Homo sapiens: one gene and its partners. The protein of the gene in region 3 purifies or fractionates together with the protein of the main gene of each other region. This does not show direct contact. Each region holds a gene or a part of one and is shown on either strand. Other genes may lie near its edges.

Region 1 (3,650 bases), on a different chromosome or scaffold from region 3:
AAATCACATCATTCCTATACAGCAATAACAGACAAACAGAAAGCCAAATCATGAGTGAACTCCCATTCACAATTGCTTCAAAGAAAATAAAATATGTAGGAATCCAACTTACAAGGGATGTGAAGGACCTCTTCAAGGAGAACTACAAACCACTGCTCAATGAAATAAAAGAGGACACAAACAAATGGAAGAACATTCCATGCTCATGGATAGGAAGAATCAATATCATGAAAATGGCCATACTGCCCAAGGTAATTTATAGATTCAATGCCATCCCCATCAAGCTACCAATGACTTTCTTCACAGAATTGGAAAAAACTACTTTAAAGTTCATATGGAACCAAAAAAGAGCCCACATTGCCAAGACAATCCTAAGCCAAAAGAACAAAGCTGGAGGCATCATACTACCTCACTTCAAACTATACTACAAGGCTACAGGAACCAAAACAGCATGGTACTGGTACCAAAACAGAGATATAGATCAATGGAACAGAACAGAGCCCTCAGAAGTAATACCACACATCTATAACCATCTGATCTTTGACAAACCTGACAAAAACAAGCAATGGGGAAAGGATTTCCTATTTAATAAATGGTGCTGGGAAAACTGGCTAGCCATATGTAGAAAGCTGAAACTGGATCCCTTCCTTTTACTCCTTATACAAAAATTTATTCATGATGGATTAAAGACTTAAATGTCAGACCTAAAACCATAAAAACCCTAGAAGAAAACCTAGGCATTACCATTCAGGACATAGGCATGGGCAAGGGCTTCATGTCTAAAACACCAAAAGCAATGGCCACAAAAGCCAAAATAGACAAACGGGATCTAATTAAACTAAAGAGCTTCTGCACAGCAAAAGAAACTACCATCAGAGTGAACAGGCAACCTACAGAATGGGAGAAAATTTATGCAATCTACCCATCTGACAAAGGACTAATATCCAGAATCTACAAAGAACTTAAACAAATTTACAAGAAAAAAATCAAACAACCCCAACAAAAAGTAGGCGAAGGATTTGAACAGACACTTCTCAAAAGAAGACATTTATGCAGCCAACAGACACATGAAAAAATGCTCATCATCACTGGCCATCAGAGAAATGCAAATCAAAACCACGATGAGATACCATCTCACACCAGTTAGAATGGCGATCATTAAAAAGTCAGGAAACAACAGGTGCTGGAGAGGATGTGGAAAAATAGGAACACTTTTACACTGTTGGTGGGACTGTAAACTAGTTCAACCATTGTGGAAGACAGTGTGGCTATTCCTCAAGGATCTAGAACTAGAATTACCATTTGACCCAGCCATCCCATTACTGGGTATATACCCAAAGGATTATAAATCATGCTGCTATAAAGACATATGCACATGTATGCTTATTGTGGCACTATTCACAATAGCAAAGACTTGGAACCAACCCAAATGTCCATCAATGATAGACTGGATTAAGAAAATGTGGCACATATACACCATGGAATACTATGCAGCCATAAAAAAGGACGAGTTCATGTCCTTTGTAGGGATATGGATGGAGCTGGAAACCATCATTCTGAGCAAACTATTGCAAAGACAGAAAACCAAACACCACATGTTCTCACTCATAGGTGGGAAGTGAACAATAAGAACACTTGGACACAGGGTGGGGAACACCACATACTGGGGCCTGTCATGGGGTTGGGGGAGAGAGGAGGGATAGCATTAGGAGATATACCTAATGTAAATGATGAGTTAATGAGTGCAGCACACCAACATGGCACATGTATACATATGTAACGAACCTGCACGTTGTGCACATGTACCCTAGAACTTAAAGTGTAATAATAAAAAAAAGCTATCAGCAAACTAGATATAGAAGATAACTTCCCAAAGCTGATGAAGGATATTTATGAAAATTTACAGGTAAATCATAATTAATAATGAAAATCTAATTGCTTTCCTCCTGGCATCAGGAGGAAATGTATTTGATTTGTTCTTAATACTAGGAACCAGCAGAATCTAAGTTTTTACCTATTCAATATTTTAGTGAAGGTCCCATCCAATAAAATAAGGCAAGAAAGAAAATAAAAGGCTTATCAGTTGGGAAGGAAAATATAAAAACTGTCTTTTTTTCACCAACAGTATTACCAATGCAGAAAATCCAAAGGAATCTAAACAAAAAAAAACTGTAATAACCATTAAGTGAGTTTAGCAAGCTCCTAGGGAATACATCAATACACAAAACTAATCCATTGTATTTCTAAATACTACAAGAAAACACCTAGAAAATAACATTTAGAAAACAGTGCCATTTGCAATAGCACCAAAAATTTAAATACTTTGGGAGAAAGTTAACAAAACATGTACAATGCCCATGCAAAACACTGCTGATAGGAATTAAAGAAGACCTAAATAAATGGTGAGAGATACCACATTGAGAGACTGGAAGACATGATATTGTTAAAAATGTCACGCTTCAGTTCCTTGACTGTCGATCCAGTACCAGAACAAATCCTTTACCGCGTACTCCCCTCAGCTGAGTGGTCCAAGTTCTCCAAACTCTGTCAGCTTATAGCATCAATAACTGACAGGAATCTTGGAAGAATAAAAACTGGCTTCCATCTTTTAAAAAGATATTTTATCTAATATATTTTTAATGAAGCTCATAGAATTTTAATCCAATGTGATGAACAAAAATAGATCAGAGTCTATGTTAAAATGAAAGACAATAATGAGGGAAGAAGGGAGAGTCAGACAGAAATTGAGGGTCACAGAGATGAGCGAGGGAAGAAATAAGAGACAAAGAGGCAAAGAAGGACAAAGAAACGAAAGAGACAGATGAAGAGAGAAACAGAGAACCAAAAATGAGGAGCTGACAGAGGCAGAGCAGTAGAGAATGAAATGGAGATATCAGCAAGGGGTAGGGCGAGAGAAAATCAGACAGAGGCAGAGACACAGGAGAGATACAGAGATCAAGGTTCCTCGGACAGAGAAGGGAAGAGAGAGGAGTCACACTCTTCCCTGTCCCCCCTTCCCACTCTTATCCATCTTCCTGCCCCTCACTGAAAAAAAAAACATCAAATAAAACACTTATCCAAAATCCAATTATAAATCACATCCATTCTGCCATCATGGAAATGAGTAACCAGGAATTTCAATTTCAATGAGTGCATAGAAAGGATGGAAGCTATTAGTGTATGTATGTGAGCAGACACACACACACACAGAGCTAGTGCCTCTGTAGCATCTCTCTGTTCCTACAGCGTATCTCAAGCTGGTTCTAGGATCACCTGCGCTGCACAAAAGAAGAAATTGAACCTTATAAGGCAAAGGTTTCTGAACAGAGGGAGGAACCTAGCCAGCTCCATGCCCTCTTTCCTCCCCTCAACCCTCAAAGGACATCCTCTGAGGAGCATGAGAACGCTTCCTCATTTTCCTTGTTTAAAATACTCTCCACCTTCTCTGAGAAAATACCCGCACCCTTCAAGTTCCCCAAATTATTCAGGGACAGGGTCTTGTCCACCTCTGTGCTTTGAGCATGAGTATAGGGCCTGCTACCCAAAAGTCATTAGTAAGTGTCTGTCAGGTGAATAAATGTACGCTGGTTCTAGATATATATGAATATACACACATATATACATTAGACATGTTTGCTATCCATGTACAT
Region 2 (3,343 bases), on a different chromosome or scaffold from region 3:
GCAGAAGGTCACTCCATCCAGGGCATTCGGCAGCCCTGGCCGGTACGCCAACACCACGTCCTGGAACTCCACGCCCCCCTGGGTCAGCCAGCCGGTGCCCAGCTGGTGGGGTCCATGGGTGGGAGACAGACGGGGAAAGGGAGATAGGGGAGATGAGGAGCGATGGTGAGGAGGGGAGAATAATGAGAAATGGACAGTGTGAGAGGAATGAGAGAATGAGAGATGGGGAAGAAGGGACATGGTGAAGAATTGTGGTCATCATGAAGAGAGGTTATGGGAGCTGAGAAAGATGGGTGGGCAAAAAGAAAGGAATTGTGAGGGAGACTGGGGCCTTCAGGGTTCCAGAGCTTTGGCCTGGGGTGGGGGTACAGGCCCACCTGCAGTGGCTGGCCCTGGGGTTCCTGGGGCAGGTCACAGGTGTACTCTTCCAGCCGCTCGACGCTCACCAGCATGGCCTCTGTCTGTGTGAAGCTGCTCACCAGGCCCGAGAGCAGGCCCGTCAGGGACAGGGCATAAGACAGCGACAAGCCCACCAGCCCTGGGGGAGAGAAGTACCAGCTGCTGGGAGAGCTTGGACACCGGGACGTTTGTGGGAGACTCCCCAGGCTGTGGACTGCTGGCATTTAAAGGAAGCAACAGAGGCTGGGCGCGGTGGCTCACGCCTGTAATTCCAGCACTTTGGGAGGCCAAGGCAGGTGGATCACGAGGTCAGGAGTTTGAGACCAGCCTGGCCAACATGGTGAAACCCTGTCTCTACTAAAAATACAAAAATTAGCTGGGCGTGGTGGCAGGCGCCTGTAATCCCAGCTACTTGGGAGGCTGAGACAGGAGAATTGCTTGAACCCAGGAGGCAGAGGTTGCAGTGAGCCGAGATCGTGCCACTGCACTCCAGCCTGGGCAACAGAGCGAGACTCCATCTCAAAAAAAAAAACAAAACAAAAAAGCAACAGAGAAGCAGGAGGGTGATAGGACCTAGCCAGGAGCACAGGAGGCCAGATGCAGGGCAGGGGGTGGGCCTGGAGAAGCTGGGAGGGACGGCATGTGGGAGACTGAAGCGGGCTGGGGCAGTGTGGTGGGGACGGGGTGGAAGCAGGGAAGGGACTGAGACCAGCAGCTCAGAAGACTCATTCTAGTCCCCAAGCCACCACCACCTGGGCAAGTCCCTCCTGGGGATTGTCTCCTCAACTCCAAACGGGGGTGATGATGATAATCATGATACATCCTCACAGGGAACCCTGGGTGGGAGGTGAAAATGTTGGGGGGATGGTGCAGGGAGAGATCTGGGAGAGCGGTGGACTAACTTGTGGATGAGGTAGGGGTGAGGGGTCCTGGGTGGCACCTGGGTTAGCGAGGCCCTGCTGGTGCTGCACCAGAGCGATGCCTGCGATAGCGCTGACCACTGCCGCCCCCATGAGCTGTAGCCGAATGTCCAGCCACTGCATTGTGGCACTGGTGGCAAACTGGCACCTCTGGTTTAGCTCAAGGAGTCGCAGGTTCTCCTCCTCAAACCTAGGGAAGGCCAGAGGGATGTGAAGCCACTCCACTGTTGCCCTGAGCCACCCAGCCTCAGGGCCTCAACAGGGAAGGCCCTTATTGAGCAGCTCCTTCTTGGGAGCTGGTCTGTATACCCACAGGCCTCCCTCAGGGCTGCAGATGCCAGTGTGCTCTTTCAAAGTGGGGGTCCACTCTGCCTCCCTATCTCCTTCTTCTGTTGCTTTCCTCCTTCCCCATCCCTTGTCCCCAGGAGGGCTGAACCAACCATACCCTGCATATTCCTCTTCTTGGGGGTCTCTCTTTTCCTCTCCCCCCAACACCTCATCCCCCTGGGCTCTGGTTCACACACCTGTAGGTGGCCCCTGTGGCCCGGAGCACAGAGAGGCCAGCCAAGGTATCGGCCAGATGGCTATACAGTGGAGACAGGGTGAGGCTGCCCAGGCGCCGCAGCTCCCGTGAGGAGGCCCTGTAGTGGCGCTGCACGTGATAGTACATGATGCTCAAAGGCGGCAGCAGGAGCAGCAGCCAGGGCAGGCCAGAGCCCAGCACGGCCAGGAGCCCCAGCAGGCCTGCCGCGTTGGCCAGGAGGATGTTGAGGATGAAGGGCAGGCTGTCATCCGCACAGGCCACATCAGAGGAGAAGCGGTTTAGGATCCGGCCCGTGGGTGTGGCATTGAAGAAAGTCACTGGTGCCTGGGAGAAGGACGCTGATTGGGCCAGGGCAGAGTCTGGCAGAAGAGGGGTTGGCAGGCAGCACTGGGGGAGGTGGGGTGGAGGGGAAGGCCCAAGATAGAGAATAGGGAAGGACTAAAATATCCCCAGAATTTGGGGGCAGAGAAGAGAGATTGGCAGAGGTTGAGGAAGAATATCCCAGGGCAGGAAAGACTCTCCCATCCCCAGTGGAGCCCGAGTATTGGGAGGACACTCCACAGGGGCTAGGACTGCACTCCCCTACCCCCGAGGTCCCAGCCCCTCACCATAAGGACTCGATGCAGCAGGCGGCGATGCAGAGTGGCAGCTGCTTGAAGGGTGCCTGCTGCAAAGAGCACTGCCCGGAGAAGGGTGCAGAGGGAATTTACACCAGCAATGGTCGCATACACGGTGAGGTAGAAACGGATGTCTGAGGAGCCATTGGGGGCAGCTTTGGGCAGTGGGAACACTGGGATGCTGGGTGGTGAGGAGGGGGCTGTCGGTAACCAAAACTAGGGCCACTCGGGGGTCCTTTCTCCTCCCCCATGCCATCTCTCCCACCCTCCAGAAGTCACAGCATCTGGAATACCGGCCACAACCCTCACTCCCTGCCTGGCGACCACTCTGAGAGCACCAGGCCTACCCCCAGCCCCAGCCACTCACTAGAGGTTTCCAGGGGAAAAGAGGAGCAGCTGCGGAGAGAAGAGCCCCATAGAAGCTGGGCTGGTGGAGGGTTGCGCCTCCTGGGAGCTATTCTCAGCCTTCAGCTGAGAGATCCAGTGGGAGAGCCACCAGTCAGCAGCGTTCCGCGTGGCTGGGTGGGGACAGGAAGGAAAAAGCTGTAAGAGGCTCCTCTCCCTTGTTCATTCTATTCCAATGCCCCCTTTCTCCGCCCTTGCCTCTGGTTCCTGCCCATCTCCATCCGCCTGGCCTGGCCTCCCCACCCTGCCACTACCCCATATCCTCCCTAGTGTGGGCTTCTCTCATAGGCCCGTCACCCTTCAGCTCTGGGGAGAACAGGATCTCAGACTTGCAGAATGGGAGCTAACCTAGGGGGCAGAACAGAAGCCAGCTATAGAGCACATGCCTCTGGCCCCTGGGCATCTCTCAGAATTAGGAGTATGGCTTTTGTCCCAGCTGTGACCCATGCTTGGTGAGT
Region 3 (3,650 bases):
ACTGGCTTCACAGAGTGGATTCTGAAGGAGTTGGGAGCAAATCCCAAGCTTACCTCCCTCTACCCAAAAGACTGCCTGGCTGGTGCTTACCTGAGAGATGGAGGTTCCTGTGAGGGCGGCCCCGCAGGTGCCTCCCCAGGCCCTACAGAGGCCTCGGGCCAGTAGGGTGGCCTGGACCCAGCTCATGCCTCTGCTTGTCAGACAATCACCTGGCCCAAAAGAAGATTCAGCATTAGCCTGGCACCTTACAGATGCTAACAGACGCAAGGGCCCCGCAGGGTCGAGGGCACACTCCAGATTATGTGGCTCACTCACCAGCCCCAATGTTTACCTTACCCAAGAAACAGGCTGATGACTCAAAGACTTTGTTCTTGGGACAGCACCCTAATCCTGCTGCCCCAGGGGCGTGATCATAGCTCAATGCAGCCTCCAACTTCTGGGCCCAAGTGATCCTCCAGCCCCAGAGCGTCGAGAAGCTGGGACTACAGACGCGTGCCACCATGCCCAGCTAATTTGAAAATAGTTTGCAGAGACCCAGGGTCTTGCTGTGTTGCCCAGGCTGGTCTCGAACTGTTGGCTTCAAGTGATCCTCCCATCTCTGTCTCCAAAAGTGCTGGGATCATGGGTGTGAGCCAGCACTCCTAGCCACTACAATCTAATTTTACAAAATCTGTGTCACTCCAACAAGAATCCCTGTACCTGGCCAGGCGCGGTGGCTCACGCCTGTAATCACAACATTCTGGGAGGCTGAGGCGGGCGGATCACTCGAAGTTGGGAGTTCGAGACCAGCCTGACCAACATGGAGAAACCCCATCGCTACTAAAAATACAAAAAATTAGCCGAGCATGGTGGCGCACGCCTGTAATTCCAGCTACTGGGAAGGCTGACGTAGGAGAATTGCTTGAACCCAGGAGGCAGAGGTTGCAGTGAGCCAAGATGATGCCATTACACCTCAGCCTGGGGAACAACAGCAAAACTCCATCTCCAGAAAAAAAAAAAAAGAAGAAAAAAAAAAAAGAAAGAAACCCTGTACCCATTAGCACTCAATTTCCCTTCACTCCCAACCCCAAGAAACCACTCATCCACTGTCTCTATAGATCTCCCTATGCCGGCCATTTCATACAAATGGAATCTGGAATCACAAGTGCTCCTTTATGATTGGTTTCCTTCACTTGACATGTTTTTTTTCTTTTTTCTTTTTTTCTGAGATGCAGTCTCGCTCTGTCACCCAGGCTGAAGTGCAATAGTGCCATCTCGGCTCACTGCAACCTTCGCCTCCCGGATTCAAGCGATTCCCATGCCTCAGCATCCCGAGTAGCTGGGATTACAGGTACATGCCACCACGCCCGGCTAATTTTTGTATTTTTAGTAGAGATGGGGTTTTATCACGTTGGCCAGGCTGGTCTCGAACTCCTGACCTCAAGTGATCCGCCAGCCTCAGCCTCCCCAAGTGCTGGGATTACAGGCGTGAGCCACCGCACCTGGCCCACTGACGTGTTTTCAAGGTTCATGCATAGATTTTTTTTTAATTTTTATTATTTTTATTTTTAGACAGGATCTTGCTTTGTTTCCCAGGCTGGAGTGCAGTGGCACAATCTCAGCTCACTGCAACCTCTGCTTTCCGGGCTCACGATTCTCCTGCCTCAGCCTCCTGAGTAGCTGGGACTATAGGTGTGTGCCACTGCATCCAGCTAATTTATAGATTTTTTTGTAGAGATGGGGTTTCGCCATGTTGCCAAGCTGGTCTCAAACTCCTTACCTTGTGATCCGTCCGCCTCAGCCTCCCGAAGTGCTGGGATTATAGTCGTGAGCCACCGCACCCGGGCTTTTTTTTTTTTGAGATGGAGTTTCATTCTTGTTGCCCAGGCTGGATTGCAATGGCATGATCTTGGCTCACTGCAACCTCTGCCTCCCGGGTTCAAGTGATTCTCCTGCCTCAGCCTCCCAAGTAGCTGGGATTACAGGCACCCGCCACCATACCCAGCTAATTTTTGTATTTTTAGTAGAGATAGGGTTTCACCATGTTGGCCAGGCTGGTCTTGAACTCCTGACATCAAGTGATCCACCCACCTTGGCCTCCCAAATTGCTAGGATTACAATCATGCCCGGCCAATTCCACTGTTTTTGGAATGGAATATAACCAGGTTTTGTATGGCTATAACCATATTTTATTTATGCATTCATCAATTGATGGACATTTGGGGTTGTTTGCCAAATGTTTTTGACTGTTATAACTACTACTGCCATGAACATTCGTGTAGAAGTTTTATGTGAACACATGTTTATACTTCTCTTGGGTATATACTTAGGAGTCAAACTGCTGAGACATATGGTAACTACATGTTTAACATTTTTAGGAACTGCCAGACTGTTTTTGGGGATGACTGCACCATTTCACATTCCCATCGGCAACGTACAGTTGACCCTTCATCAACAAAGGCTTGAACAGCATAAGTCCATTTATACGTGGATTTTTTTTTTTTTTTTCAGTAAAAGTTATGGCTGTACGTGGTGGCTAACGCCTGTAATCACAGCACTTCGGGAGGTCGAAGCAGGCAGATCACCTGAGGCCAGGAGTTCGAGAGCAGCCTGGCCAACATGGGAGAGACCCTATCTCTACTAAAAAAACAAAAAAACAAAAATTAGCCAGGCTGGGGGCACACTCCTGCAGTCCCCAGCTACTCAGGAGGCGGAGGCAGGAGAATCACTTGAACCCAGGAGGCAGAAGCTGCAGTGAGCCAAGATCGTGCCACTGCACTCCAGCCTGGGCGAAAGAGGAAGACTCTGTCTGAAAAATAAGAATAAGACCAGGTGTGGTGGCTCACGCCTGTAATCCCAGCACTTTGGGAGGCCAGGCAGGATAATCACTTGAGGTCAAGAGTTCAAGACCAACCAACCAACGTGGCAAAACCCCATCTCTACTAAAAATACAAAAATTAGCCAGGCTCCTTTTGCCGGTGGCGGCAAGCATGGAGAGGATGCCATGAAGGCCTCGGGCACACTACAAGAGTACAAGGTGGTGGGTTGCTGCCTGCTCACTCCCAAATGCCACACACCACCCCTCTACCACATGCGAATCTTTGCACCTGATCATGTCGTTGCCAAGTCCCACTTCTGGTACTTTGTATCTCAGCTAAAGAAGATGAAGAAGTCTTCGGGGAGACTGTCAACTGTGGGCAGGCATTCGAGAAGTACCGCCTGCGGGTGAAGAACTTCGGCATCTGGCTGCGCTACAAACTCCCAGAGCAGCACCCACAACATGTACCAGGAATATTGGGACCTGACCACCACGGGCGCTGTCACCCAGTGCTACCGAGACATGGGCGCCCGGTACCCCACCTGGACCCATTCCATCCAGATCATGAAGATGGAGGAGATAGCAGCCAGCAAGTCCCACCGGCTGGCCGTCAAGCAGTTCCAAGACTCCAAGATCAAGTTCCCGCTGCCCCACCAGGTCCTGCGCCATCAGCACAAGCCACGCTTCACCACCAAAAGGCCCAACACCTTCTTCTAGGGGTAGGGCCCTCACCCAGGTGTGCCCCACGTAAACTCAGGAACGCCCCGGTAAAAAAAAAAAAAATTAGCCAGTCATGGTGGTACATGCCTGTAATCCCAGCTACTCAGGAGGCTGAGGTGGGAGAATTGCTTGC

The links.
Region 1: the proteins of ECSIT (region 3) and DECR1 purify together in Homo sapiens (affinity purification with mass spectrometry; 2 studies listed by BioGRID and IntAct, with this or other methods). This does not show direct contact.
Region 2: the proteins of ECSIT (region 3) and ABCC10 purify together in Homo sapiens (affinity purification with mass spectrometry; 3 studies listed by BioGRID and IntAct, with this or other methods). This does not show direct contact.

The regions. Positions count from the first base shown.
Region 1 is NC_000008.11:90,021,907-90,025,556, reverse strand, and holds part of DECR1 (2,4-dienoyl-CoA reductase [(3E)-enoyl-CoA-producing], mitochondrial isoform 1 precursor), read right to left. Parts: intron 1-3,650. UniProt on the Homo sapiens protein: Auxiliary enzyme of beta-oxidation. It participates in the metabolism of unsaturated fatty enoyl-CoA esters having double bonds in both even- and odd-numbered positions in mitochondria.
Region 2 is NC_000006.12:43,444,443-43,447,785, reverse strand, and holds part of ABCC10 (ATP-binding cassette sub-family C member 10), read right to left. Parts: intron 2,999-3,343; coding exon 2,848-2,998; intron 2,662-2,847; coding exon 2,472-2,661; intron 2,188-2,471; coding exon 1,844-2,187; intron 1,510-1,843; coding exon 1,340-1,509; intron 1,236-1,339; coding exon of another isoform or gene 973-1,235; exon of another isoform or gene 886-972; intron 539-885; coding exon 378-538; intron 281-377; coding exon of another isoform or gene 272-280; exon of another isoform or gene 188-271; intron 103-187; coding exon 1-102. UniProt on the Homo sapiens protein: ATP-dependent transporter of the ATP-binding cassette (ABC) family that actively extrudes physiological compounds, and xenobiotics from cells.
Region 3 is NC_000019.10:11,518,985-11,522,634, forward strand, and holds part of ECSIT (evolutionarily conserved signaling intermediate in Toll pathway, mitochondrial isoform 1 precursor), read right to left. Parts: intron 3,567-3,650; exon of another isoform or gene 2,947-3,566; intron 210-2,946; 5' UTR 187-209; coding exon 91-186; intron 1-90.